Linked DNA regions of Homo sapiens: region 2 is linked to region 1. Evidence: fine-mapped expression QTL. A gene starts in region 1. The other region holds a variant in brackets. All regions are shown on one strand. Distances are between the middles of the regions.

Evidence for each region. PIP is the estimated chance that this variant, and not a neighbour inherited with it, causes the effect.
Region 2: its variant is the best candidate, but not a certain one, in a credible set for the expression of PLEKHD1 in lung (TOPMed, PIP 0.71).

What each region holds. Positions count from the first base shown.
Region 1 is chr14:69,473,762-69,488,815 of GRCh38, reverse strand. It overlaps PLEKHD1 (pleckstrin homology and coiled-coil domain containing D1), which reads right to left and starts at 4,088. Exons shown (of 13, transcript NM_001161498.2): 1 at 3,702-4,088. The coding sequence starts at 3,850.
Region 2 is chr14:69,521,732-69,536,785 of GRCh38, reverse strand. PLEKHD1 (pleckstrin homology and coiled-coil domain containing D1) reads right to left here. Exons shown (of 13, transcript NM_001161498.2): 7 at 14,409-14,503; 8 at 12,464-12,557; 9 at 10,664-10,842; 10 at 9,957-10,089; 11 at 9,454-9,598; 12 at 8,854-9,003; 13 at 5,235-8,536. The coding sequence ends at 8,367. Among named protein-coding and RNA genes, the nearest start is that of PLEKHD1, 45 kb to the right of the region's middle. RefSeq lists an enhancer at 7,002-7,171. The variant G/A (reference allele first, on the strand shown) is at 11,098.

The DNA of each region.
Region 1 (15,054 bases):
GCTCTGGAACAAGGAGCCAGAGAGTGAAAAACACTATGAAATCTTCAGAATAAAGTAATTTGGTCACTTTTTTTTCTGGAGGCAGAGACACTGTTCCCCAAGTCCTTCTTCTTTATCAATGCTGAAAGAGCTCCTCTGCTCTGTCCCCTCCCCAACTTCCCACACACATTAGCAGAAGATCCCTGCCCCTCAACTGCCACCTGGTCACTGTTCCCCACACCCTATGTTGCCACTCTGGTAGAAGTTTGAAGAATAGAAGTTTATTTTTTAAAGGGGGTCCTTCAGGCACCCTCCACAGAGGAAATGTTACAATTCTGCTTGTGGGATACCTCACACAGCCAGCTGAGGGAAATGCCAGGGGTGCCAGAAAGTGAGACCAAACCCCAGGGTCACCAGGGTGAGGCTGAGCCTAGTGCCGTGAAGCTGACATGATAGGCTCTTCTCTCTGCTCTGGGAAAGCTCGGCATTGGTGTCACCTCTGGGAAGCAGTGCTGAGCACCAAAGTCAAAACCCTGGGCTCCAAATCCCTGTGGGAAGAAAGTCTCCTCTAGTCTTTTTGGCATGGTGACCCTCATCTGCACAGATAATCTTTACACACTGTACAGGTTGTGGCCTGAGATTTAGGACACATGGCCACTGTCTCCATGGCTCCACTGGCACCAGGTGGACACAATGAATCTTAGCTCCCTAAGTCAGGGACCCACCGATGCTCTGCAAGAGTAAACTGCGGAGCTCGGTTCAGGCCCTACTGGCTACCCTGCCCCTGGGGAGGAGAAGGGGTGAGGAGGATTATAGATGCTCCTGTTGCAGGAAGGAAGTGGGTGGGTCCTCCTCCTTAGGGGTTCCGGCCTTGGGAAGTGTTCAGCAGGGATTTGGGAGGTGGAATAGAATGCTGGAAAAAGCATTCAATCTCAGGAAAGAATTAGTCTAGGCCAAGCCCTCACAGCATGACACTGGCTGAGGCTGAGATTTCCCACCCCCTTCCTCTTTGTCCTGGCACTGCCCAGGTCTTTGCACTTCCATCTCCACTCACAGACCAAGATGAGGACACAGTCAACAGCCTTCCCTTCTAGACATCTCTCCCAGATTATCTGATCTCTGCTAATTAATGCTTTTGATTCCCTTCCCCTTTTGTTGCCCCCAGGAAATAAGTTGACCCTTCAGCTCAAGGGCACCTTCCCACCCCAGGCAGGCAGGGCTGCTTGGGCGGTGGAAGCTGGAGGCACAGGTCCTAAGACAGACCCTGAGTGGAAAAGGTTTTATAGAACCCAGCTGGCCACAGCCAGTTCTCTCCAGCTTATTCTTTACTAATGCAGTGCTGAGACTTTTCAGGCCCCCTCCCCTTAACTGCTCCAGCCAGGGCATTGATCGCCCTAATGGCAAGGCTCTGCGGTGGCGGCCCTCAGCTGCTCTGTCCCCAAGTCTTCCTGTGGCTGCTAATTAGCTGAGCCCACAGACTCTACTTTACAAATGGGAAGCTGGGGCCCAGGGGGCCCTGATGGGAAGTGAGAGGGGGCTGAGCTGAGCATCTTTCTCCCCCACACCCAGGCCCTCTCTGGCTGGCTCTGTCACTGACCCAAGACTAAATAGCGTGTGTGTGTGTGTGTGTGTGTGTGTGTGTGTGTGTGTGTGTTGTGTATTCCCAGAACTGAGAACACAGAGGCCTAGAATGGGCAGGTGGGATGTTAGTTCTTTCTTGAGCCCCAGGTAGTCTTTGCACAGTGGCAGCTCTGAAATTCCTACAAAGGAAGGGAACCCAGGTAACAATCTCCTTGGAAGGAGGCTAAAGGACTTGACTTTTAGCTGTATTAGCAGAGCATACATACTGCTCAGACTCTGATTGCATCGTTTCGGGTGGCTTTGGGGGCCACGGTAGTGGATGGAGGAGAAGATGGAGTCTCTGGGTGGGGGACACTAAACCTCTCCAAGCCTCCTTGGCACTACCATTGTGCTTTTAGCTGGGGGCCTATGCCCTGTACTCCTGACACTTCCTAGCCCTGGAATCAACTGTAGGTGCAGAGACCAGTTTCCCAATGTACCTGCAGTGGTGAAGGGGAGGACCAGGGGACATACCCTGGGGGTCACAAGCACCTAGCATTTTCTAGGGATGCTGTCAGGTGAAAATGTCTGGCAAGAGAAGTCTTGGTTGACAGGACCCAGAACAGCAGCCAGACCCAATAGAAAAGAAAGATTAACTATCTGGAGCTGCTGAGGCAGAAGAAAGATGGGTGGTGGGGGGAGATATTCTGCTAATTGTGCTTGAATCTACACACAGCCTTTCCACCCCAGCTCTCCTGGCCCTGGGGGCTGTAGCTCACATAGCACAATACTGGAAGCTCCCCAAATACACTCCATGTTGCTCCAAGCCTTCATTTAGGGGGTCAGAGATAAGCTGAACTTTGGAGGAACTCAAGAAGCCTGTATCCCATTAAATCCCAGAGAGAAACCTGTCAGAAGCAACAAAACAACATGAAACCAGAGATATAAAATGTGAGCTACTGTCCACAGCTCCATTTGTTCTGCGGTCTTATAGAAACATTAAATTATTCATCAGAACAGAACATCAGCACCCACCACTACCACATCCACATGATCTGTGGTCCTGGGAACATTGGAGGCCCCCTCTGCTCAGGGGCAGACTCATAGAGTGTGGGATGGGGAAGGGGCATCTGGATACCCCTGGTTTCCTGGAAGGGTCACACCTCCGCGGAAGGGCTGGACAGGGTCTGCATTCTCCAGGCCATACCAGTAGTGAATCTCAGAACTGAAATTGACTGGAGAGTGGAAACTGTCCAGAAAATGGCCCACAGCACCTGCAGCCAGTTGGGAGCTTCCTGCAAGTCCAGGGCTGTGAACTCCCTCTTCCCTCAATACCTCCCAGGCTAATTTGTAAGTGGAGAGTGGCTACCGATGTCCGCGGAGTCGCGTCTGAGTTGGGGACCAGGCAGCTGGGGCTGAAGGATGGTTGGGACTACCCTGTCTCTCTCCACCACCCCTTTCAGAGGATCAATCCTTGGCAGAACCAATCTATCCCCTCCTTCACTCCAGCTGCCTCCCTCCTTTCCAGCTCCTCCGTCTGAAGCACTAGAATCTCTCTTCCCTGTGCTCACTTTTAAAAAAATTATTTCAAGGGACAGTTGGAGGGGTTGCCAAGGTCACTTCCCCATGGACAAGCACCCTTCCTGGCCCTTCCTCCCTCCTTAGCCTGAGCCTTTCAGAAGGGCCAGGTCCCTCTCCGTCTTAAGGGTGGGTGGTTGGCGGGAGGGAGACACTCAGGCCCGGTCCTCGCGGCCTGGGTCAGGGGTTGTGAAGACGATGGAATTGACAGTGGGGGTCCCGGGGTTGGGGGCATCTTTGGCTAGAGATGGAGTTTCTGCCTCCCCTCAGTCTGGCCTGATCTGACCTAGCTGGGATCCCACCCCGACCACGGTCTCTTCTGCCCACACCCAACATTCCCACTCGAGGGTCAGGTTCATTCCATAGAGAATTTGCCACCGCCCCAGGGCAGGGGCCCCATCTCCATTCTCCCGGCCCAGACTATGGTCCACATTTTCCTGCGGGAGCCAGTGTAGAGTGAAAAGGGGTGACGCCAAGGTCACACAGGAAAGCAGAGGCACGACGGCGACTGGAGGGGGTGGGAGGGGTAACGACGCCCAGGCTCTCTCCCCGGCGGTCTCCTTGGGGCGCGGGGGCGCACTCACCGCCGGGACCACTTGGCCGACGGCCTGCCGAAAGGCCTCTTCCACAGCACGCCGTAGAGCTGCACTTTGGTGCTGATATCCAGGGCGTCCGAGTCAGCCTGCTCCAGGGACGGCGAGGGCGACACCGAGTTGGACTTGGACGTGAACATCCTGCCTCAGCGGGGCTGTGCCCGGCCCGGACCCCACCTCCCCGGGGTCAGCAGGGACTCGGGGCGAGAGGCGAGGGCGGAGCCGTCGGAGAGCGTCCCAGCGAGCAGAGAAGCAGAGCGGCCCGGCCCGGAGCTGCAGCATCAAAGCGCGCTGGGCACTGGACGCGGCACCAAGGGGGCGCAGGGCGCGTAGCCGGCGGCTTGGGCTCCGGATTGCAGAGGGCCGGGCGGGAACTCCGCGGGGAGGGTGGCTCAGCCTCGGGCCGGCAGCATCTCCTCCCCTCCCGCCCTAGCCACCCACCCCCCCGGCGACAGCCCCAATTCTGGTGGCCCCGATTGGCTGGGAGTGGCAGGTGAGCCGGCGGGAGGCCGGCCTCGGGCGCCAATCAGGGCGGGCGCCGGCTGGAGGGCCGGGCTCCGTGCGTCCAGAAGGTCCCTGCGGGTCGCAGGGCCCGGGGACTTGGCCGCAGCGCGTCCCCGTCCCCGCCCCGCGCGCCCAACACCACCCCGGGGTCCCTCTCGGCGAGCAGCGCCGACATCGAGACGAGGGCCACGTCCGCTTTGCAATGGGGTTGGAGGCACTCCTGCAGACACCTGCTCGCCTCGGGGTGGAGGAGAGGACGGAGCTAGGGCGTAGGGTCACACACTCCGGCCTGGAATTCCACCGCAATTCCTACCGCTCCGTGAACTGCGGCGGTCTGGCTTTTCTCCCCAGTGAAGTGGCGATGCCTGATGCCCCGGGCAGGCGGGTGGCCAGGTAGGACTTCAGGAAGTGCCCAAAGTGCCCGCATGGGGAGGGGCTCCATCAAGATTGGGTTCCCCCCAACCCTTCCCCCTCAGGTGGGTTTCACTGTGCTCCGCCGCCGCCGCCTAGCGCGCATCGGATCGGATTTCTCTTCCTGGAACCTGACCGTGTCTGTGTCGGCATTTGGCACTCAACGCCAGTCTGGAGCTATCCGTGCAGTGTGTGTCCGTGATTTATCTGCGCGCCTGGCCCGCGCTCCCTGGGACCAGCTGTTCCATCCGCTTCCGCTCCTTTCGGAGTTGGCGTTTGGGGTGACCGGCTCATTTTCAGGCCAGGGAGATGCCGGCCGGGCCCCAGGGGACCGCCTCCTCCCGGCAGGTGGAAATGCTAGGCTGGCACAGCTGCCTGCCCCGCGCCACCTGCCAGGCGTGGAGACCGCGCAGTGAGCGGCCGCCCGCCAGACCACGCCGCAGTCGCGCTTTTCCAAGATGAGGAGCCAAGGACGCCTCTGGAAGTCGGATTGCAACAGAAGTTTACAAATGGTTAGCCCGAGAGCCAGATCCACATTGCTTTATGAATTTGCCCCAAGTTTTTAAATTGAGGTATACTTCATGGTAAAATGCACACATCTAAGTTATTTCTTTGATGAAGGTATATAAGATGTAACCCCACCCAAAGCAACAGACAGAACATTTCCATCACCTGCAGAAAGTTTCTTCATGCCCCTTTATAGTCAATCAGCCCCCCAACAACAACCACTTGTATCATTCTTACCACCTCTGCACAGTAGACTTAAGTCTTTGAATGTAATGCCTAAAGGCGCATCCCCACAGGCCCCATCATCCCCTATTGTCTGACCTGCCTGGCCCCTCTGCAGGCATTTGGATGTGTGACGCCCACTAGATGTTCCCCAAGGCCATGCTAGATCTCCCCATTTTATGACTCTAGCTAATCATCACCCTGGTACTCTTCCCTTAACCCCCTCTGGGGTTCCCAAGCTCAGACAGCATCCCCTTGTTGCTCACTGTCAAGAAGTGCCCATCTGAATTCCTTGCACTTCTCTCATGGCTCAGGCCCCCATGCAGAACATCTCAGGCCAAGCCTTAACACAGGGCCCGGGGCTTGGCTCCATCAGGTGGGAGGAGGTGGGACTGGGAAGATGATGAGAGCCCGGGGCCAGAGTACAAAGTGGACATTTTCTGTATATTTTTTGTCTATTTCTGACACATGGTCTAATGCTTGGAAATCTTCCCACTTTAGGAGCCCTGCTTTTCTTTTCTTTCTTTTTTCTTTCTTTCTTTTTTTCTTTCTTTCTTTTTTTTTTTTTAGAGAGATGGGGGTCTCATTATGTTGCCCAGGCTGGTCTTGAATTCCTGGCCACAAGTGATCTTCCCACCTCAGCCTCCCAAAATGCTGGGATTACAGGTGTCCTGCTTTTCTAAGATGAAAGCTAGAAAACTTGTGTTAGGAGCCTGTGGTCTGGAGTTCACCAGTCAAGGGCCCCTGACTTTGAGTTGCAGGTAACAAATGTGAGGAAAAAGCATACACAGGCTTGCACTTTTCAAGGGAACATGGTGGCACATGCATCTGACGTGCCTTGGGTGACAGCTGTGTGCTCCTGGGGTGGCAGCAGCATGTGTGGTGGGTACCACAGCAGTCATGGGGAGGTGGGCTCCTAGTAGTGCACAAACAGCAGCAGCAAGAACTCAGGGGCAGCTGCAGCATTCTCATCCAACAGCTTCTGCAGCACTTCTTAGATATGGTTCCTGGAAGCTTTGCCTCAGGCCTGGCTCCCTGGCTCTCCCAATATCCTTTTAGTACATTCATTTCTTTTCTGCTGAGTCAGGTCAGTTGCAGCTTATGGCTGCTGGTGATGAGGACTAGTGGTGAGTTTGTGAGCCATGTGGGCCAGAGAAAGGCAGGATACCTGCAATCATTCAAAAGAAGTCCTGCACGGTAGGGCCCAGTGAGCCCAGATAATCCTGGGGAAGGCTGATTCCTTCAATAAGAGAAGTGAAGCACAGGTTTCTTCAATGACAAAGAGCAACCAATCTTTACCTATTCCCTCTGCATACAGGACGTATGAATAGACCTCAGATAATAGCAGTTAAGGCTGGGTGAAAGGAAGGCTCTGAGGCAAACAGCTGGAGTTTGATCAACCACTAGATACTTGAGTGGTTTCTGTTCCCCTTGACTAACCAGCCCAGACTGCACCAGGTCAGCCTTGGGAGAAGCTGTTTCTGCTTCCATTGTGTTCTCTACCTCAGCTGGTAGGCGTGCTGAAATCCTGGCTGAGTTCTACAGAAGACAGAACAAGCCAGGTGCCAATCCTGTGCGCTAGACCAAGTGGGTCAGGGCCGCCCAATCTTGCCAGGAAGTAAGTGAGACCAGTCAGGGGTGAAAACTCAGGATCCCTAAGTGCCCTACACTGCTCAGACACAGAGCTGATGTTCTAATACATTATTTACAACAGACACATTTCATTTAATTTTTACTATAGACCTATGAGGTACATACATATTATTTTTAGTTTTCCAGATGAGAAAAATAAAGTTCAAAAGCGTTGTCTACGTAAGTCACATAGCTAGTAATTTCCCAGAACATGATATAGGTCCTAAATATGTGTTGAATGAGGGAAAGTGACAAGCTGAAGTTTGGCCTGAGTCCTTAGCCCTTCCCCTTCACCTTGCAGCACACTGTCATGTGAAGTGAAGTGCAGTCTAGGAAATACTAGACCACTTTCAGTCTTTCCTCTCTTTTCAGGAATTTTTCTCAATTGCCAACTCACCTAGGGCTCAATTTCCTGTAGAACTGACAAAGCAATTCTACGAGTGCTACAGAATTTTAGCTGTGCTCAGGGATAGACTCCTAATGAACATATTTTTTTGTTGTTGTTGTTAGAGACAGGGTATCACTCTGACCCAGGCTGGAGTACAGTGGCGTGATCATAGCTCACTGCAGCCTCGACCTCCTGAGCTCAGGTGATCCTCCCATCTCAGCCTCCTGAGTAGCTGGGACTACAGATGCACGCCACCACATCCTGCTATTTTTTATTTATTTATTTATTTTAAGAGATGAGGTCTCACTATCTTGCCCAGGCTTGAACATACATTTTTATAATATTGTTTTATCCGTAGTCTGCAGGCAGATGTGATAGTCCCCACTTTTCCATAAAACAAATATTAGCATGGCCATTTTAAGTGACTAGCCCATGGTAAGGAAATGTGTGAATACCGTAGGGAATCCATCTCTTCAATCTTATATTTCAGGCTGCGCGTGGTGGCCCATGCCTGTAATTCCAACATTTTGGGAGGCCGAGATGGGTGGATCACTTCAGGTCAGGAGTTTGAGACCAGCCTGGCCAACATGGCGAAACTCCATCTCTGCTGAAAATACAGAAATTAGCCAGGCATAGTGGCGCATGCCTGTAATCCCAGCTATTCAGGAGGCTGAGGCAGGTGACTTGCTTGAGCCTGGGAGGCAGAGGTTGCAGTAAGCCAAGATTGTGCCATTGCACTCCAGCCTGGGAGACAAGAGCAAGACTCTGTCTCAAAAAAGAAAAAAAAAAATCTTATACACAAGGGTATTATTTAGCCCACTAAAACCAGGAATGGGCAGGAAACATTGCCTAATAGAAAATGGTGACAGAGGTCACCTGGAGTCATCGTTATTGGACTACCATGAGCCACAGAAGCTCCCAGCAACCTGGACAAAAGTGGCTCTTCCCATAGTGCCAACTCCTCAGCTCCCTGCCCCTCTGTCCCTGACCCCACCCTCAGGCAGGCCACGTCGTGTCTACTTGTTTCCAGGCTTGTGCCAAGTGAAGGACCCAGGAATGCTGCGACTCTGGCTTCAGCACCGGCATCTGTCTGTCAGCTGGGCCCAGCCCAAGTATCCCTGAGGGGCCAAGAAGCAGAAGAGGCAGAAAGACCTGAGCTCCAGGCCAGGCCCTGCTGCAGCACCAAGTGTCATCCATGGAACCCCTTTCCCTCCTCCAAGCCTCCTTCCACCATTCAGGCTCCTGCCCTAGATTGCACAAGGCTGTGGCACCGATTTCAGCTGAAACCATACCCTCCTCTGTCTTCCCGTGGATCTTTGTCCATCGCCCATTCTAACACACGTCTGTCTGCCTTGTTTGGAGTTTTTCTGTATGTGTTTTCTTCCCTTTCAAACTTGGAGGTCCTTGAAGACATAGTCCAGGGCATGTGGTGGGTGCTCAGCAAATGCTTACTGAATCGGTTTGTCCTCGCTTAGCCTCTGTTCAGGTGCTGCCATTTCCTGTTTCAATTTGCCAAACAAATGGAGACTGACCTATCAGGTCCTCAACTTCCCCTCCTCTATAAAATAGTCTGTGTGTGTGGCGGGGGGGTTGGGAACGTATGTGAAAGCAATCTCTAGATGGCAGATTGGTCACCTGCTTCTAGTGTTAACATAAGTTTAAGTCCAGGCTCTGCCACCAGCTGTATGAACTAAAGACAATCACTGGGCTTCTCTGGGCTTTCGTGTTCTGAAGGAACTCCTCCTTCCACTCTCAACTTGCTTCATGTCCAACTTTTTTTGTTATTATTATTATTTTTTTAGAGATGGGGTCTTCCTATGTTGCCCAGGCTGGCCTCTAACTCCTAGGCTCAAGCGATCCTCCTGCTCTGGCCTCCGGAGTAGCTGGGACCACAGGTCCACACCACCATGCCTGGCTCATATTCACCTTTCTCACTAGGACTGTGCAATACCATTTTCTGGTGACTCTTCCCACCAACAGCTGACTCCCTAAATAATCCAGCTCCCCACCATCATGCGTGCTCTTTTCAAGGCCCCAAGCTGATCCTGTAAGTCTCTTGTGTAAAGCCCTCTGCTGGGTCCCATTCCCTTGACCCCAGCTCCTACCTCCTGACTTTGGCTCTAACACTGATACGGTTTGGCTGTGTCCCCACCCAAATATTATATTGAATTCCCATGTGTTGTGGGAGAGTACTAGTGGGAGGTAGTTGAATCATGGAGGAAGGTCTTTCCAGTGCTGTTCTCATGATAGTGAATAAGTCTCACCAGATCTGATGGTTTTAAAAAGGGGAGTTTCCCTGCACGAGCTCTCTTCTCTCATCTGTCACCACGTGAGACATGCCTTTCACCTTCTACCATGATTGTGAGGTCTCCCCAGCCACATGGAACTGTAAGTCCAATAAACCTCTTTCTTTTGTAAATTGCCCAGTCTCAGGTATGTCTTTATCAGCGACGTAAAACCAGGCTAATACAAACACCCTTCACAGTCTAGTCCCTGGCCCTGTCCGCACTCAAAAGTTTGTACCAGTAGAGTAGGGTGCTGCTGAAAAGTTACCCAAAAATGTGGAAGTGACTTTGGAACTGGGTAACAGACAGAGGTTGGAACGGTTTGGAGGGCTCAGAAGAAGACAGGAAAATGTGGGAAAGTTTGGAAGTTCCTAGAAATTTGTTGAATGGCTTTGGCAAAAATGCTGATAGTGATATGAACAATAAGGTCCAGGCTGAGGTGGTCTCAGATGGAGATGAGGAACTTGTTGGGAACTGGAGCAAAGGTGACTCTTGTTATATTTTAATAAAGAAACTGGTAGCATTTTGCCCCTGCCCTAGAGATTTGTGGAACTTTGAACTTGAGAGAGAAGATTTAGGGTATCTGGTGGAAGAAATCTCTAAGTAGCAAAGCATTCAAGAGGTGACTTGGGTGCTGTTAAAGACATTCAGTTCTGTAAAGGAAGCAGAACATGAAAGTTCAGAAAATTTGCAGCCTGATAATGTGATAGAAAAGAAAATCCAAGCCAGCTATGGAGATTTGCATAAGTAATGAGGAGCCAAATGTTAATCCCCAAGACAATGGGGAAAATGTCTCCAGGGCATGTCAGAGGTCTTCACAGCAGCCCCTCCCATCACAAGCCCAGAGGCCTAGGAGGAAAAAGTGGTTTCATGGGCCGGTCCCAGGGTCTCCTGTGTGCAGCCTAGGGACTTGGTGCCCTGCATCCCAGCCACTCCAGCCAGGGCTGAAAGGGGACAACGTAGAGCTTGGGCCATGGCTTCAGAGGGCACAAGCCTCAGGCCTTGGCAACTTCCACATGGTGTTGAGCCTGCAAGTGCAGAGAAGTCAAGAATTGAGGTTTGGGAGCCTCTGCCTACATTTCAGATGTATGGAAACACCTGGATGCCCAGGCAGAAGTTTGCTGCAGGGGCAGGGTTCTCATGGAGAATTTCTGCTAGGGCAGTGCAGAAGGGAAATGTGGGGCAGGAACCCCCACATAGAGTCCCTACTGGGACATTGCCTAGTGGAGCTGTGAGAAGAGGGTCAGACCCCAGAATGGTAGATCCACTGACAGCTTGCACCATGCACCAGGAAAAGCTTCAGATACTCAACACCAGCCAGTGAAGGCAGCCAGGAGGGGGGCTGTACCCTGCAGAGCCACAGGGGCGGAGCTGCCTAAGACTATGGGAACCTACCTCTTGCATCAGTGTGACCTGGATGCGAGACATGGAGTCAAAGGAGATCGTTTTGGAGCTCTAAGATTTGACTGCCCTGCTGGATTTCAGATTTGCCTGGGGCCTGTAGCCACTTTGTTTTGGCCAATTTCTCCCATTTGGAATGGCTGTATTTACCCAATGCTTGTACCCCCATAGTATCTAGGAAATAACTAACCTGCTTTTGATTTTACAGGCTCATAAGTGGAAGGGACTTGCCTTGTCTCAGATGAGATTTTGGACTGTGGACTTCTGAGTTAATGCGGAAATGAGTTAAGACCTGGGGGACTGTTGGGAAGGCATGTTTGGTTTTGAAATGTGAGTACATGAGATTTGGGAGGGGCCAGGGGCAGAATGATATGGTTTGGCTGTGTCTCCACCCAAATCTCATCTTGAATTCCCATGTGTTGCAGGAGCAAGCCAGTGGGAGGTAGTTGAATCATGGGGGTGGGTCTTTCCTGTGCTGTTCTCGTGATAGTGAATAAGTCTCATCAGATCTGATGATTTAAAAAGGGCCAGCCTGACCAATGTGGTGAAACCCCATCTCTACTAAAAATCCAAAAATTAGCCAGGCTGTGGTGGCACATGCCTGTAATCCTAGCTACTTAGGAGGCTGAGGCGGGAGAATTGCTTGAACCTGGGAGGCAGAGGTTGCAGTGAGCTGAGACTGTGCCACTGCACTCCAGCCTGGGTGACACCAGAGGGAGACATTGTCTCTAAATAAATAAATAAATAAATAAATAAATAAAATAAAGGGGAGTTTCCCCGCCCAAGCCCTCTTCTCTTGTCTGCTGCCATATGAGACATGCCTTTCACCTTCCGCCATGATTGTGAGGCTTCCCCAGCCGCATGGAACTGTAAGTCCAATAAACCTCTTTCTTTTGTAAATTGCCCAGTCTCAGGTATGGCTTTATCAGCAGCGTGAAAACAGACTAATACAAATACCCTTCACAGTCTAGTCCCTGGCCCCTGTCCGCGCTCACTCACAGTCATTCCCCTGGCCCTCTGCTCCAGCCACGCTGGTTCTGCTAGCCTGGGAAGGTCCCATGCTCTTCACATCTTCTCACTTGCTGTCTCCTCAGTCTACAATGCTTCTCTTATTCCCAAAATCCCTCTTCAACATTCAGCCCAAAGACTTCTTTAGTGATGTCTTTTAGTTTTCTTTTAAAACATTATTATTATTATTTTAAGAGATAGGGTTGCTCAGGCTAGAGTGCAGTGATGCCATCATAGTTCACTGAGCCTGGAACTCCTGAGCTCAAGCAATCCTCTCTCCTCGGCCTCCCAAGTAGCTGGGATTACAGGTACATGCCAAAACGTCTAACTAATAAACTTTTTTTTTTTTTTGAAATAGGGCCTAGGGATCTTGCTATGTTGGCCATGCTAGCGTTGAACTACTGGGCTCGAAAGATCCTCCTGTTGCTGGGATTACAGGCATGATCCATTGCACCCAGCAGTGATGCCATTTTTTTTTTTTTTTTTTTTTGAGACAGAGTCTCACTCTGTCACCCAGGCTGGAATGCAGTGCCTCGATCTCGGCTCACTGCAACTTCCACCTCCTGGGTTCAGGGGATTCTCATGCCTCAGCCTCTGGAATAGTTGGGATTACAGGCACACACCACCACATGCAGCTAATTTTTGTATTTTTAGTAGAGACAGGATTTTGCCATGTTGGCCAGGCTGGTCTCGAACTCCTGACCTCAAGTGATCCACCTGCCTCGGCTCCCCAAAACGCTGGGATTATAGGCGTGAGCCATTCCACCCGGCAGTGATGCCTTTTCTGATGCCACTTCCTCCTCCCCTTGGTTGAATTATATTCCTATTTTGATTGTATTTCCTAAGGCCACGATGGGCCTTGGGCTCCTCTACCTGCGCAGGACTGGGTTTCCCCCAGGGCAACCCAGGAGAGAGTTGAGGTGGGGCACAAGGTACCACATGAAGGTGCAAAGCCAGTAGGCCAAAGGACTATGGGGGAGGGAGAGCCACAAGGGTGTGTGGGCACAGAAGACTAGTTGACCCATCTCTGGGTGCGCTGGGGAGTAGGGTCCCCCGGGGCCCCTGTGGGAAGCCTCACTTGCGGGGAAGCACAGCCTGAAGCCACATAAGCAGGCCCCCGCTTCAAAGTCTCTCTCCACTTGAGCTCCCTGGCACTAGACTAGATGGGCTGTGTTCTCATCAGCAGGGCCAGCCTCTTGCTAGGCTTCTACCCCACCCCACCCTCTCACTGCCCAGTAATCACTCACACCCAATGTTGCCAATGCAGAAGCGTTTTTGGGAGTGGCTGGAAAACCATGCCACCCTGTCAGCCTGCCAGCTACTCTACCGCACTAACATTAGCTCTTGGTACCCACCGGCATCGCTGTGGGCAGCACACTCAGCAGACACCCTGAAGGTATTCAGTGCTCCCTCTTGTGGGTGATGCATGAATTAGAATATACATTAATTTGGCTTCTAAGAGCAAGTATATTTTGGGAATGGTAAGAGGCAGATATGTTGAGTCTGGCCAATAAGCCCATAGCCATTTATTGCTATGATCTCACACACTCTCCCAGAACATCTAAGGGAAAGCCAAGATGCTGGCCCCTCATCTAGAACAGAATTAGCAGTTCACTGGACTAGGAGCCAAAGGCTGGTCACCAGCGTTAGCTCCATCTTTACTCAATGAGAAGACTTTGGTCAAGTTACTTTAAAACACTCTTGTCTTCATATATCAAAAGGGAGCTAACCAGGAACAGTGGCTCATACCTATAATCCCAGAGCGTTGGGAGGCTGAGGTGGGAGGATCAACTGAGCCCAGGAACTCGAGGTCACATTGAGCTGTGATTACACCACCACACTCCAGCCTGGATGACAGAACGAGATCTCCAATCTCTTTTTAAAAAAAGAAGGGGGTGACCAGGACATCTAACTCTCTGCATCATACTTTCTTGGAATTTTTTTTCCAGGTTCAATAGCATGTTCTTTTCTGGCTTTGTTACTAAACTGAATTTGCATCCGCACACCCGGTGGAGCAAAGCCAAACACGGCCATGGGGATTGCAGTCAGAGAAAGTGAGGCATTTATTGCAGGGTGCCAAGGAAGGAGAATCTGGCAGTTTATACTTCAGACCAGAACTCCCAAACAGCTTACAGGCAAGACTTTCTAAAGGCAGAGGTTACAAGCAAAGTCATAAGCCATAAATTAATACAATGGAGGCTATACGTTGGTTTGACCTAAAAAGGTGGACATCTCAAGGCGGGTGGGGCACAGGTCACAGGTGAATTCACAAAGATTTTCTGATTTGCATTTGGTAAAGGAGGCAAAACTTTGTCTAAAAATTCGGAGTTAGCAGAAAAGAATGTTAGCTCTGGCCCATGGTCGCGAACCGGTGGTCAGAGTTCAGCCCTCATTTCCCCCTATCTGAGGTCTATGTGCCAGCAGATCATTTGGTGGGGGTCTGGGTTTCTGGAAAGCAACTCAGGAAAATATGGTAAGATATTATCTTTAGTTTCTAAAGGGAACCAAACTTTCTGAGACTCTAACTTCCTTGGTTATTGTTTTAGGCTGCTTTTGCCTTCTTGCTTATGAAATTGCTCGCCCACTTCTCAGGGCTAGCTAGGTGCCTGGAATTTCCCTTGAAGGAACTCAGATTTTCCTTTATTTCCTTGATGAGTGGGTGGGGAGGGTGCCTGGCAGGCTCCTAAGAGGAGTCCCCGCTCCTCTCAGTTTGTCAAGTACTGAGCAGGGCGAAGGCAGGGACAGATGAAAATACAATATAGGTTCTACTGCCATTCCCACCCTCTGCCCCTAGCCCAGCAAACACCCAATTCAGATGGGGGCTGGAGGGCTGGAAGGAAACAAGAGTTCAGGAGTGGAAGCTTTGGTGAGACAGTAGTTGAAGTATCTGAAGATGGTTATCAAATTCTGCCCTCAAGAGCATTCCAGACATAAGCAAGCAATCCAGGTCCTTCTAGCTTCCTCGAAGACCCCAATCTCCCCCTCG
Region 2 (15,054 bases), 48 kb before region 1:
TTTAGTAATGTGTCAAGGTAGAAGTGCTATTGACTCCAAAAACAAAAATGATTTTTCAAAAATATGCTGATACTCATTTCCTGCAAATGTAACATTCTTCCCAAAAAACCTCCATAAGGTAGAGATTTTATATAATCTACACCAGGATTGGAGGAGAGTTTTGGGAGCATCTAATTGCACACCCTCATTTTACAAAGGGGAGGTTGGATGTCTCGGATTAATTGTTGGCTCTTCAGGATCACCCAGGCCTTCAGATCCCCAGCCCAGAGGCTTCCCATTGGCTGCCTCCTCTAAGAGGTTACTTCTCTTCTAGAGGATACTTGATGTGGGAAGTGTGGATGAAGGGCAAAGAAAAGAGAAAATCAAGAGAGTGCCAGCTTGGAAGTAATTGAAGGCAGCAAGAAACTAGGCCTGTTGGCCAGGCACAGTAGTTCATGCCTATAATCCCAGCACTTTGGGAGGCTGAGGCAGGAGGATCACTTGGGGCCAGGAGTTTGAGACCAGCCTGGACAACATACCAAGACCCCACTTCTACAAAAAATAAAATTAGTTGGGCATAGTGGGACATGCCTGTAGTATCAGCTACATGGGAAACTGAGATGGGAAGATCACTTGACCCCAGGAGTTTGAGGCTGCAGTGAGTTATGATCTCACCACTGTACTCCAGCCTGGGCCACAGAGCAAGACTCTGTCTCTAAAAATAAATGAAAAAAAGAAATGACCTGTTACTTTGCAAAGTCCTTAGGTTGAGAAACTCTGAACTTGTTACATTGGACTAACCAGACTTCCAGAAAAGAAGAGTTCTTAGGAGACCAGCAGTTACCAAACAGCTGAGTTAATCCCTTAAGAACTCATGATAGAAAATCTCTGAGTGAAGATTCTTGGGACCTAAAATATAGAGGAGCTCAATATATTTACTGAATGAATGACTGAATGAATGAATAAGGCAATGGAAAAAAGTCACTTAAAATTTTTACATTTTTTTAGGGGATGCTAGAAAAAGCACTGCCCTTGAACTCAGATACAAGCTGACCTTCCAGTTACAAGCTGTGTGACCTTGGGCAAGTCCCCCAAACTATGTGGGTTCCATTTTTTTCTGTAAATCAAGGAAAGATATGTGAATACAGAAGAGAAGTCAATGTGAAAGTGCATGGTATATAATGGACTCAGTAAGTGATGGACAAAGCAGAGTCCTTTGTTTCATACCTTAAAGGGGAGAACAAGGGTGAGACTCAACACCAATAGTGCAAAACTGCAGCAGATTGTCACCAAAACCCCTCCACCCCCGCCGTCTCCCAGAGGCTCAGCTCACTTTCCCATTGGAATTTGCAAGCCAGCTCGGAGCATGCTGCCATCTGCTGGGAAGAAGATAGACGTGAACACCAAAGCATCCCTAACACCAGGCCACAGTGGGGAGGGAGAAACCTGGAAAAGGAAAGGGTAGGGATCCAGTTTCCTTTGGCTGTGACTCTCTTGTCCTTTAAGACATCCAGGGCCCTCCCCATTGGCCAACAATTTGTCAGAAGAATGAGATTTCAATCAGGTTTTCTCCTGAAAACTGATAGGACATTATCCAACTTTAAAAAGGAAGGAGATTCTGACATACGCTACAACATGGATGAATCTTGAGGACGTTATCGTAAGTGAAACAAGCCAGGCACAGAAAAAGACCAATGCTGTATAATTCCACTTATATAAGGTATATACAGTAGTCAAAAATCATAGAGACAGAAAGTAGAATGGTGATTGCCAGGGGCTGGGGGTTAGGAGAATGGGGAGTGTCTAATAGATACAGAGTTTGAGTTTTACAAGATGAAAAAGTTCTGGAGAGTGGTTGCACAAAATGTGAACATATTTAACACTACTGGCATATATTATATTACACTTATAAATATATACATGTGTGGCCGGGCACGGTGGCTCACGCCTGTAATCCCAGCACTTGGGGAGGCCGAAGTGGGCGGATCACGAGGTCAGGAGATCGAGACCATCCTGACTAACATGGTGAAACCCCGTCTCTTCTAAAGAAATACAAAAATTAGCCAGGCGTTGTGGCAGGTGCCTGTAGTCCCAGTTACTCAGGAGGCTGAGACAGGAGACGCGTGAACCCGGGAGGCGGAGCTTGCAGTGAGCCGAGTTCGTGCCACTGTACTCCAGCCTGGGCGACAGAGCAAGGCTCCGTCTCAAAAAAAAAAAAAAAAAGAAGAAATATATACATGTGTGTGTATGTGTATATATATATATATATATATGTATGTATTTTGAGATGGAGTCTCATTCTGTTGCCCAGGCTGGAATACAGTGGCACAATCTCGGCTCATTGCAACCCCCGCCTCCTGGGTTCAAGTGATTCCTGTGCCTCAGCCTCCCAAGTAACTGGGATTACAGGTGGGCGCCACCACGCTCGGCTAACTTTTGTATTTTTAGTAGAGATGGAGTTTCACCATGTTGCCCAGGCTGGTCTCAAACTCCTGGCCTCAAGTGATCCACCCACCTCAGCCTCCCAAAGTGATGGGATTACAGGTGTGAGCCACTGTGCTCAGCCTCTGTACACTTAGAAATATTAATAGTTAAAATGGTAAATGTTAAGTTGTGTGTATTTCACCACAATTTAAGAGCCAGTAAGTGAAAGAGATAAGCACGTGGTAGACACTTGACTTCATGCAATAGAATCACAATAAATACGTGTTGAACGAAGATGGAAAGAAGTGGCATGGTGGCTCACACTGGTAATCCTACAACTTAGGAGGCTGAGGCAGGAGGATTGCTCAAGCCCAGGAGGCTACAGTGAGTTATGATTATACTAGTGCACTCCAGCCTGGGTGACAGAGCAAACCCTGTTTCTCAGAGATGGAAAGAAGTGATGCTGACTGATGGTCTCAGATACAGGGTGAACATGACAATAGGCATCTTTTCTTTACCAGAAAAGCCTTCCAAGCAACTATGATTAGTCACAGTTACCTTTTCCTTGAGGTGATAAATTAGTTATCTTTCCTATTCTCATCTCAAAGCAAACATATATTTTCATAGACAGTTCTAAGGATGGCATGGCATTGAGTGCTACCTGAGCCAGAACCTGACATCCTGTATGTTCTTGATCACTTGTAGCAGTGGCAGCCAATTTTCTGTTGATTTCAGGGATGCAAAGTCCCAATCATAGAACTTCAGAACCACAAAGGCTCTGAGCAGCCTGTAAGATTGAAGGGATTTCTCTCCTGCTTACTAAAAATGCATAAATACAGTAAACATTTTAAATAGTGACTTTTCAAAAGCCACAGGAGCCAGCAAGTGGCAAAGCAGAGCCTTCCCCCGCACCCACAGCAGCAGACAGTGCACAACAACTTCTTCCCCTAGGTCTCGTCTTGCCACTGGAGTCACTGCTCTGCAAGGGGGAAGGCTCTCTTTGTGGACACTCCAAGGCCCACCAACCACAGCTTTTGCCAGGATTACAAGGGGAGGCTGAGTCTGTTCACAATGGGACTCTCAGCCCAGAGGCAGGTGTCAGATCCTCCAGGGGAAGGGTGGTGGAGTGCAAAGAGAGCATGAGCCCCCAAATGCAGCTGGCTCTGAAACTGCCTGGATGTCTCCTGGAGCCCCTGCTGTTGAGCCCTTGTGAGCAACTCTGACTCACCCCAACTTCCCTGCCCAACTGTCAAGTCTCAGCCAGAGGCATACTCAGAGTTGACAGTGACAGGTAAAGTTCACCACAAGGGATTTGGTTATTAAGGTCCCCACCCCCCAGGACTCCTGGACTTAGAGTATTTCCTATATTTCCCATGAACACCTTTAACCCAGTAAGATGGAGTGAAGTTCATTTCTGGGTCAGAAGAGCTGTAAGCCATGGGTGGAAGCCCACGTCCAGGGAAGGGAATGGGAGATGGGATGTGCCGAGCCAGGAGAACTGAACCTGGGGATGTTGACACCACAACATTCCACACCCACTCGGAAGTTTGAATAACCAGTTTCTCCCAGTTGCTTTGTGTGTCTGGGAGTGGCTCTCTTTCAGGAGGTAAAAACAACCATTGTAATCTCTCCTAAAGCCTTGCAAAAGACATCCCTCAACTCCTGTTTGCCAGGGGTGGGGTGAGATAAGAGAAGTCAGCAGCTTTTTCTCCAAGAGTCAAAGCTGCAGAGTTTCTGACTTTGGAGAGACCTTGCAAGGCCTGGGGGTCTGAGAAGTGTCAACATGGCTGATTGCAGAAGCACACAGTTCCACAGGGACTGCTGGACTTTATCTGAGGGCTTCAGGACTATTTTGCCCAGTGGATTTATTTATCTTCCTATTGGATAAAATCTGACACACCTGGACTGGCTCCCTGAGACTTGAGCAAGTTTTGTTCCACTATCATCATTCATTGTGGACTCCAAACAGGCTGCTGAGACTATGCTGAGCTGGGTGGGCTTGGAGTGGGTTGGGGGCAAGAATTACATCCTTCCAGATGAATAGAGGGAGAGCATTCTTGCAAGGACTGGGAGCTGGGGAATGGGTCAGAACCCAAGTGTTTCACGATCTCTTGCTTCATCCATTAACATCATTGGTGGAAAAGCACACAAACCAAACAGGAGGAGAATCCAGTCATCACCATTTCTCACTCATTTCTGGCTCTCCTTTATATGATTACTAAACAAAAGCATACACTTCCCCACATCAGAGCAGGTAAAACTGTCAGTTTCCAGCAGGGATACTGAAACTAGCAGGCCATAAAGCTAGGTATCCTGGCTGGGCATCATGGTACGTGTCTGTAGTCCCAGCTACTCAGGAGGCTGAGGTGGGAGGATCACTTGAGCCCAGGAGTCTGAGGTTATAGTGAGCCATGATCACACCACTGCACCCCAGCCTGGGCAACAGAGTGAGACTCTGTCTCTTAAAAACAAAAACAAACAGGAAAACCAAACAAACAGGAAAACCTCACTAAACAAAAAACCTAGGTATCCTTTGTCTCCCTGAGGCTATTCTCACTGGCACAGTCAGTCCTGTTCCTTTAGTCTGTGCTAAAATCAGAAGAAAATCTAGCTGATAGTCCTTGTTACACAGGGACAGCCAGGACCTCAGGGCTGGAACACAGATTTTTCAATTAATTATTAGGAGGTGCAGCAGTGGGGAGCACTTCCTCAAATGTAGAGAAGCATGTGCAGGAGTACGTATTAGAGACAGGACAAGCAGATTCCATAATTCTACATTTGGCCTGCAGGTAGCAACATCTCTCTAGCAATGACCACACCACATACTTAAATAGATACTGCAGGAAATGCATTTAATTGGCCAAGGAATAAGAGTTTTGTTTTTAAAAATTAAAAAAATTACATCAACATATCTCCACTAAGTAATTTCCACTCCTACGTATTTTGATATAGAGATGTTGCTATTTTTCTATTTACAGTGCTAGGTACATAGTGAGCTTTTAACGAATAAACACTTATGGATTGTTCAGTTGGCTGAAGATAATTCAGACTTGCCTGAGGCATGGAAAATACAGGGTGAGAATAGGAGGAAGTATCGATTGGTAAATGTGCATGGAAAAGCACTGCTACAGTTTGAATGTTTGTTCCCTCCCAAACTCACACTGAAATTTAATTACTATCCCAGTAGTTTGCAGGATTAAAAAAAGAAATTTGATTGCCATTGTAACAATATTAAGAGGTGGGACCTTTTTTTTTTTTCTGAGACAGAGTTTCACTCATGTTGCCCAGGCTGGAGTACAATAGCACAATCTCGGCTCACTGCAACCTCCACCTCCCAGGTTCAAGTGATTCTCCTGTCTCAGCCTCCTGAGTAGCTGGGACTATAGGCACCCACCACCACGCCCAGCTAATTTTTGTATTTTTAGTACAGGTGGGGTTTCGCCATATTGGCCAGGCTGGTCTCAAACTCCTGACCTCAGGTGATCCGCAAGAGGTGGAACATTTAAGAGGTGATTTGGCCATGAAGACTCTCCCTTATGAAAGGATTAATGTCATTATCGAGGGGGTGGGTTTGTTATAAAAGAATAAGTTTGGCCCCTCTTGCTCTCTCACCCTCTCTTTGCCTGTCAACCATGGGATGATGCAACAAGAAGGTCCTTGCCAGATGCCAGCACCTTGATATTGGACGTCTTAGCCACCATATCTGTGAGCCAGTACATTTCTGTTCCTTATAAATTACCCAGTCTCAGGTATTCTGTTACAGCAGTACAAAGCAAACGAAGACTAGCACTTTCCTGTCTGGTTAATAGCTCGCCCAAGAAAAACAAATGCATCTGAAAATTATGAAAGATCTCTCTAAAAGCAAGCCATGATTAATTCTTTTAAAAAAAAGGAAACAGTAATCTTGGTTTTATAAATATTCCCCTTCAATTCAAAGTTCATCCTTCATACGTGTTAGAGAAACAAGTTCCAGGTTTATGCATGTTATACACGTTTAAAGTTTTACATTTAGGCTCAGCCCTGTCAAATGCATTTATTCCAAACTGACTCAGCCCTCTCCCCAGCTAGATTCTGCAGAGACTGTATGAAGCCACCAAAGTCCACCCATCACTGAAAGGAACCACTGAGATTAGTTTTGGCAGGAAGCACTGAGCAAAGAGCAGGGCAGCCCGGCCTGGGCTCGGCCAGCCTAGCAGCAGATGTGCATGTGTTCTTAGAGGCAACAATGCTCCTCTTCCCACAGAATAGGTTGTGGGCTCCCAGGTTCTTGCACTTTTTGCTGGGACTTGCCCCGAAGCCATCTGTTTATCTCTCAGAACTTCTTGGTTTTCCAAGCAGCAAAGAATGAGCACCTTTAATGTCAACAGTGTCCAAGAGCACCCTGATCCCAGGTGGACCCCTTTTCTGGAGGCCAATAGCCTCAGGTAGCTTTGGAGGGTGGGCCTGCAGGGAGAGGGTCTGGGCAGTCTGTCTGTCCATGAGTGAGAGACAGACACACCCTTCAGCCCCCTGGAGGGTGGTGGTCTTCCACAGAAGCTGCAGATTGGCGTTTCAGCTTCACTCCCAATGACACTGAGCCAACCAATGACTACTGGCCTCATCACAGGCCCAGGGTCCCCAGCTGCCAGAGTTCATGGTCACATTGCTTCACAGGCTGAAATCTCTGCAGGGAGAGGAGGCAGCAAGGTGACTGAAGCAGGGGCAGCTGGGAAGGAGATATCTGTGATCTCTCGACCAGCAGGAACACTGCCTCCCTGCGCAACCAGAAGTACATAATGCAGGAACCAGAGTGACTTTCCTTCACTCCTGAGCTTGTTTTCCTTGTGTTTGTTTGAGACAGGGTCTTGCTCTGTTACCCTGGCTGGAGTGCAGTGGCACAATCTCAGCTCACTGCAGCCTCAACCTCCCAGGCTCAATCAATCCCCTCATTTCAGTCTCCCAAGTAGCTGGGACTACAGGCATGCACCACCATGCCCAGCTATTTATTTTATTTTTTTTATTTTTTGTAGAGACAGGGTTTTGCCGTATTGGCCAGGCTGGTCTCAAACTCCTGACTTCAAGTAATCCTCCCGCCTCGGCCTCTCAAAGTGCTGGGATTACAGGCATGAGCCACTGTGCCCAGCCCACTCCTGAGCTTGTTACGTGTCCTCTGGGGGAGCCCCCAGCATCACTGCTGGCCCCAGCTCCCAGCCAGGGCCCTAGGTACACAGGCAGGAGGGACTGGTGCCATCATTCTACCCTTGCAGGGTGCCAAGGCTGTGAGTGAGCTCACCAGAGGAGGAGGGGAATCAGTGGGTGGCCCCACAGCCAGGGCCTGAGCTCAGGAAAAGCGGCACTGTGGCGGGTGTGTGGTATGTCAGGAGCCCAGAAGCTGCTGTCCTAGGCCCCTTTCCTCCTGCACAGCATGATGTGGTGTAAATGAGGGGTCTCAGCTGAGGGACATTTTGCTGAGTGTCAGAAGCAAAGGGAGGGTTAGGAAACCCTGGGGAAAAGGGAATGTCAAGGTAGGGAGGCAAGGCCTTTCTACATGAGGACCACGGGCAGGGCAGCAGAGTCCCAGAGAGGTCCAGTGGGCACCAGGGAGGGCTGCCATCTTCCTCAGTGGGGCAGACCCTGCCTGATGGCACAGTGGTAGACAGCACCTCCCCACCCCACTCCCTAACCGACACAAATCTCCACATACAACCAGGTCCTGTCCTCACCTCACCATGACAACCAGCACCCAGCTCAGGCCTGCATGGCCCTGGTGTGGACCCAAAGGTGGGGTGTGGGGTGAGGATGAGGAAGGCAGCGTCCATGTCCTTTGAGGGCAAGGCTGGCCCCCAAGTGGAGCTCCGGCCCAGAGGAGACATAGGCTCCAGACCAGAGAGGCCAGGAGCTGGTAGAGTGAGGCCTCCCTCTGCCACCCCTTCCCCTCCCCCGCCCATCCAGGGGAGACTTGGGAAGCAGGGGAGGAGCGCCCATCACTTTCCACCCCGGGAGAGTGCCGAGGGGGCTCCAGGCTGGGTGGCCATGATGTGGTAGATGGATTCCCGGAAGCGCTGGTCCCTGCTGAGCCGCTTGGCCACCTCCTTTAGCTCCTCCATGTTGTTGGCATCCAGCTGGGAGGTCATGAAGGACTGGGACGGCTTCACTGGGGAAACAGGAGCCCAACAGCCCTGTGAACAGTGCTCCCTCCACGAAGGCCTGGCCCTGTCCCCAGCCTCATGCCACCCCCTCACTCCTTTATGTGTGCCAAGCTTCTTCCAGCCCCTTCCCACACACACGGGCTTCCATATCCTTTGAGAAACCCAGGGCCCTGAGAATTCACCCGTTTGCCCAAGGATGGTGGGGCCAGGTTCAAGGCCACACTCTCCAGCCTCAGAGCTGGGCCAACCCTTCTGGCTCCCCATGTTGCCCTCTTCCTGCCTTGTCACCATCCCACCAGGGCACGCAGACAGCCACACTCACTGTCATTCCAGGAGGTGCTGGACCGGCGTCGGTGGAAGCGGCAGCTCTTGATGCGGCGAGTGGCTGCCTTATGGATGTACACGGAGTTCTTCATGATCACAGGCATCTTGGCCTCCAGCTCGGCATTCCGGATGCACTCCTCAAAGAACCCTGTGGCGGCAGGGCCAGGAAGGGTGGGGTTCCGACTGCATCCTTACCCCCAGCCAGTCCCTCCCTTCCCAAGGATCCTGGTGAGATTGAGTGGGAAATATTTTGACCCCGTCCCTCGAGATTCCAGAGCCACCTGCTGAAGGGGACTTTCTTTGCCTTTCAAACCACAATCTGCAGCCATCTCAGGGCACGTCTGCTGAGAACAGAGCTCTGAGCTTTTGATAAATGGAAGAAGCTCCTGGCTTTCCTCTCACCACAGATCCAACAGCCACAAGAAAGCAGTGGTGCTGAGATGCCTGCAGGCAGGTAACTGGAGAAGAAACCCTTCAATATCCAGGGAGCACCTCATGCCTAGCAGACCCTGTGTGGGTTTCCTGGCTCTACAGGGCCGGGATCCCATCTGGGGCTGAGTGCCAAAGCTGGGGGCCAGGGCCTAGAGGCAGGGCTTACTTTTCAGATGGCTCACATCAGCCCGCATCCTCTCCTCCTTCTCCTTATTCCGCACCTTGGAATTCAGCCCCTGTTCCAGGCTTCGCAAGGCCCCTTCTGCCTCCCGGAGACGCCTCTCCAGGTCCATGCGGACCTTCACCTCAGCCTGAGGTTGAGGAGAGGGAAATGAGAAGGAAGTCAGGTCCTGGAAGTAGCTGCCATCTTCCCTGGAAGCCTTCCTTGGTCACCCCTGGCTCAATGGGCGTGGATGGGAGTTATCACATCCCGCTTCTGAGTCTTACCCTTTGAACCAGATGGACTGGACTTGGCACCTGCACCCAGCAGGTGTCTGTCAATGATGCAGCAGACTTGCTGCTTCCCCTCGTGGTGGCTCCATCCCCCATGCCTGGCTGTCTGGTCAGACTGACAGAGATAATTCATGCAGCTACCCGGTAAAGTGCAGGGGTGGAAGGGGAGTCTCCAGGGAAGGGGAAGGGCCCTGGCACCAGCAGGCCAGGTCGCACCTTGAGCTCCCGCTCAGCCTGCTGCTTCTCTGCCGTCAGCTCCTGCAGCGAGTTCTGCAGTGCCTGGGACTGGCTGGAGTAGAACTCACGCTCCTCCTCCAGGGCCCGTGAGCGCTCCTCGTTCTCCTTCATCCTGTAGGGACAGAAGAGGCACTTTCTCAATGCTCACTCGCCAAATGGGATTGCCAATGGATGGACAGCTCCTCTTAGAGACCTGGGCTGGAGAAACCTTGAATCCCAGGCTTTATGAGCCCCTGAACTTTGTGGGTCCAGGCACCCAGGGGATGAGATTGATGGTGTGGTCAGTGCTGGGAGCCCTAGGTTTAGAGTCAGAAGACTGGAGTCCTGGGTCCAGAGGTTGCTTGTTCTGTGACCTCAGAAAAGTCATACAACCCCCCTGAGGCTCCATTTCCTCATTTGTAAAAGGGGGCTTAAAAACTTGCCCAGCCTGTCACAAAGCATGGTGACAAGGACTTAATAAGTCTGCATGGTTCACACCATTGCACAAGATAATTATCAAGCCAGCTTTGGGTAGTGAAAGTTCTCTTCCCACTTTCCTGGTGGGAAAACAGAGTCCTAGGCAAAAGGAAGTGAGTGAGTCCTACTTGGTCAGTGCCAAGTAGAACCCAAGAGTCTGGATGTCCAGTTCGAGGAAAGTCCCCAGACCCCAAAGTCAATGGTGTCTTCAGGGGTCGGGGCTCCCTCACCGCTTCTCTGCCAGGAGCTTCTCCTCTAAGAGCTGCTGCATCTTCTCCTCGATCTGCCGGAGGTTGCTATGGAGGCCCCCACTGGGAGGGGGCTGCTCACTCTGATTGGCCAGTGTCTGCAGGTGGTTCTCGTTCTCCTCCAGCATTTCCAGGGTTTTCTTCTTCTCTATGGAGAGTTCCTGGCATGGAGGGAGGCAAGGAAAAGAAAAGCCCAATTTAGGTTCTCCATCGTGGCTGCCCTCACCTGCTTTTCCGTTTGGGGGAGTGACCCACTCCTCTCTCAGTCCTCTATGGCCGCTGAAATGTCTTCATTCTTCTCCAGAGCTAAAAGGCCCAGATCTCTCCCACAACAGGGCAAGGTTACTCCTCCATCAAGAGTCATAAAGGAACCCAAAGTGCCTTCCAGTGGAGACGGCACCTACTAGAACGGGGTC[G/A]CATGATCTTCTGGGGTCCTGGTTCCTCCAGGGGTGAATGAGGAGACATAGTGGGCTTACGTGAAAAACACCCAACAGGAACCAGCCCAAGAGCATATTTAGATGCTCTCACAAACAGAGCGAGGCTGCAGTGAGCTATGATTGCACCACTGCATCCCAGCCTTGGCAACACAGCTAGAACCTGTCCCCAAACCACCCCCCACCCCACCTCCAAAAAAAAGATGTCCTCTCCATTTATCAGACTGGGATCTTGTACTCAATGGCATTACACAGAAGCAGAGTTGAAAATATCCATGGGAACCACCTCCCATGATGTGAAACAGGGAAAGATAAATGAATAAAGGCCCCACAAGCTCCAAGGCTCCAGTCAGTCAAGGGAGACAAGAAACCTTTGCAGCCTTGAAGGTAATTCATGCGTACAGCACAGGTATGGGCCATACACCATATGTGCCAGGCCCACTTCAGGGGATGGGCTTGGAGAGACCATGAAGACACAGTCTACTGAAATTCATAGTTTGGAAAACACACCTAGCATGTTAAGTCCCATAAAATATGTACAAAATGCCACGGGAGCCAAGAGCTCAGAGTAGATACCTGCCTTGAAAATCAGAGAAGCTTGACTGAGGAGATATTTGAGCTGAGACTTAGAAGGGTGAATAGAAGTTCTCCAAGCAGAGAAAAGGTGGAAATGATACACTGTGTAGAAGGAACAGTGTGGGAAAAGGTATGGAGCATGAAAGAGCTTGCTTCCTTGGAGTACCTGAGCTCCGCGGTTTGGAGCAGGGGTTGGGAGTCTGTGCAGGGCATGGAGGAGCAGTGAAGGGAAGAGTGAGGCGAGAGGGAAGGGGAGACCAGGGCCAGAGTTTTCACTTGCTTGCCATGCTAAGGAGTTTGTACTTTGTCCTTGAGGCTTGTCACCTCCCCACCCCATCCCAGTTTCTGTGGTATCAGATGATGGTGACCTGGCAGTTGATTTCCCTTTACGTTCAATGTCACTCAGGAGCAGCTAAGCGAACAAGACACAAGAAGGAAGCGGTGGGTAGCTCCACTGCCCACCTTAACCAATCCTCTATCTGGTATAAAAATGTAAGCACCAGAGGTGGATTTCCTGAGGCCATGGTAATAGCAAGGACAAGCCTGAATTTGTCCTTTTAGGTCTGAGAACAGACACTTCTTGCTTTGGGCCTCATGCCTCGGCCAGAGTTTTCAATGATCCATAGAGAAGAGACCCTTTAGATCAGCACCCCTCCATGCCCATTTCTCTTACAGATCACCCCCTGGGGAAACACTGCTGGAAAAAACAGTGTCATGTGGTCCAACCAACCAGCCTGCCACCTGGTCAACTAACCCACCAGCAGCCCCTCACCTCCAGTGTCTGCTGCAAGGACTCCGTGAGGTGCCTCAGTTCCTTTTTCTCTTGTTCTACACCCTTAAGGCATCTTGCAGTCAGTTCCAGCTCCCTGTGGAGACAGAGGGCTGGGTATGGCAGTGCCCACTCTCCCCACCCCCCACCAATCACCTCTGCACTTAGAAATGCTTTTGCTTCACTTCCTGATGGGGCTCAGGAGGGCTCTTGAATGGCCAGCCCCTCTGCACAGCTGGGCCCTGACAGCAGCAGTAGGGGCCTGGAGTTGAAAGTAAGTCCTGGCCACATGGGGTTGGAGTCACTTGCTCCAGGTACACATGCATCTGTCACCTGGAATAAACCTAGGGCCACCCCACAGGCAGAGGGAAACACTGGAGAAACAAAGGGGCCCCAGCCTCACCCTGTCTTCTCTGGACAGCACTTGCTAGAACCCATGGTCATTCTGACATAGAACATGGCTAAGGCCCCTCTTTGGGTTAGTAACAAGCTCCTTGCTGCCTTCTTCACAAGCTTCAGTCACCTTAGGCTTTTACACTAGTGTCCCCTCATCCTACTTGGAAAGTCTTTCCCTTCTCCTGCCCAATTTTCAAAATCCTACTCACCTTTCAAGGCCCATCTCACTCAGCCCTGTATTCAAGCCCACAAGCATCATGCATGTGTCTCAATTCTCGTAACACAGGAAATCTGCACCATGCCTTCTAGCACCTGATTACATATTATTACACTAATGTTTCCTGGGTATGAGTCTGGTTTCCCCAACCAGATCATACGTCCACTCTTCAAGGGAGTGGACTTGTCTTCTATTCCTTCTAATACCTGGCAACATTCTGGAAGCTGAGTAGGTGCTTGGCTATTTACTTAGTAAGATCCTCTGGGTTTTTCCCTCCTCAAAATACATAGTTAATTGACACCCTTGGATAAGGTTGTTATAAGAAAACAGTTTCTGGGCTATCACTGATCATGTGTGGTGATGATAATGATGAGGATGAGGATGACGATGATGACTACCCCACCCACAGCAGCAGTCTCCACATTCCTGGAGGCTGCCTCAGAATCACCTGGGGTGTTTTTAAAAAATATATAGATTTCTAGCCCTGGTGCGGTGGCTCACACCTGTAATCCCAACACTTTGGGAGGCCAAGGTGGGAGGATCGTTGAGGACAGGTGTTGGCGACCAGTCTGGCCAACATGGCAAAACCCTGGCTCTGCTAAAATTACAAAAATTAGCCAAGCATGGTGGCACATGTCTGTAATCCCAGCTCCTCAGGAGGCTGAGGCACAAGAATCACTTGAACCCAGGAGGCGGGGCTGCAGTGAGCCGAGATCGTGCCACTGCACTCCAGCCTGGGTGACAGAGTGAGACTCTGTCTCAAAAACAAACAAACAAACAAACATTTTTATATATACATATATACATGTATATAGATATATACATGTATATATATAGAGAGAGATTTCTAGGCTCTACCTTTAAAAGATTATAATTCAGTAGATGATTATAATGTACAACTAGGTTTACAAACAATACATGGTACTAAAGTTCTCAAATGACACATTCCCAAAAAGGACTATGCAGGAAAGACAGCAAATGTTGAGGGTCTTGGCCAACAGCAAGCACCTCTAGGCCAGCGTGTCCTGTCTGGCCCTGGGTGAGAGAGGCTTTCATGAAGGCAGGGGGCTTTGTGGCTTGGAGGGATGCTCCATTGCCTTATGCTCTAGTGGGTAGAAATGACCCCATTTATCTGGGTCAGGGGAGTCTACAGATTCTTCTGGGAACACTCAAACCTGGAGCCTTGGAGGACAGACTCAAACTGGGATAGACCCAAGCCTGGAGCCTTGGGAAGATAGCATCTCTGAGGTGGAGGCCTCCTCAGATCTGACGGGGAAGGTGGGCTCTGCATGCCCTAACTTAGTGGCACCCCCAATTCCCAGGCACCACCACCACCTCTTGATCTGCTCCTGCTCCATTCTCAGCTCCTGCACCACCTCCTCGAACTGCTGCTTCTCGGCCTCCAGCACCTGGTTAAGGCGCTCAAGCTCCTGAAGAGACCAGAGAGGAAGAGAAGAGTCACAGGCAGCAAAGGAACCCTGAGATCAGGATCCCCCACTCTATCCCAAGGGACCCTCTGGGATTTAGCACAGCCTGGGTCATGTGCTGCACCAGACCGGGAATTAAGTTCTAAGGCCCGCTGGCCCCACTCATTGATATGTAGTCCTGACAAACCCAAAATCTATGATGAATCGAGCCCACTGAAAACACATTTTGCATGCTGAAGACTGGGTTTAGGAACACTCCCAACATTACTCCCTGTGGCTGGAGGAAACTATAATTCTAAATATCTACTCTGCAGGGCAGCTCCAGTCACTGCCACCATCAGGCGGGTTGGCTGTCCCTCACACCTGGAGGAAAGAGTGGTGAGTGTGTATTTCCATTCGAGATCCCTGGAGTGATGTCTGTTAGAAGTGGCAAGGAAAAGCTATTCCCAACCCAAAAGTCAGAGAATAAGGACTCTATTTTTCTTGAGGTATCTGGGAAGCAATGACTCCAGGTGGCTTCAGCTTCCCTCTGCTCCGGCCCCAAAGTGGAGGAG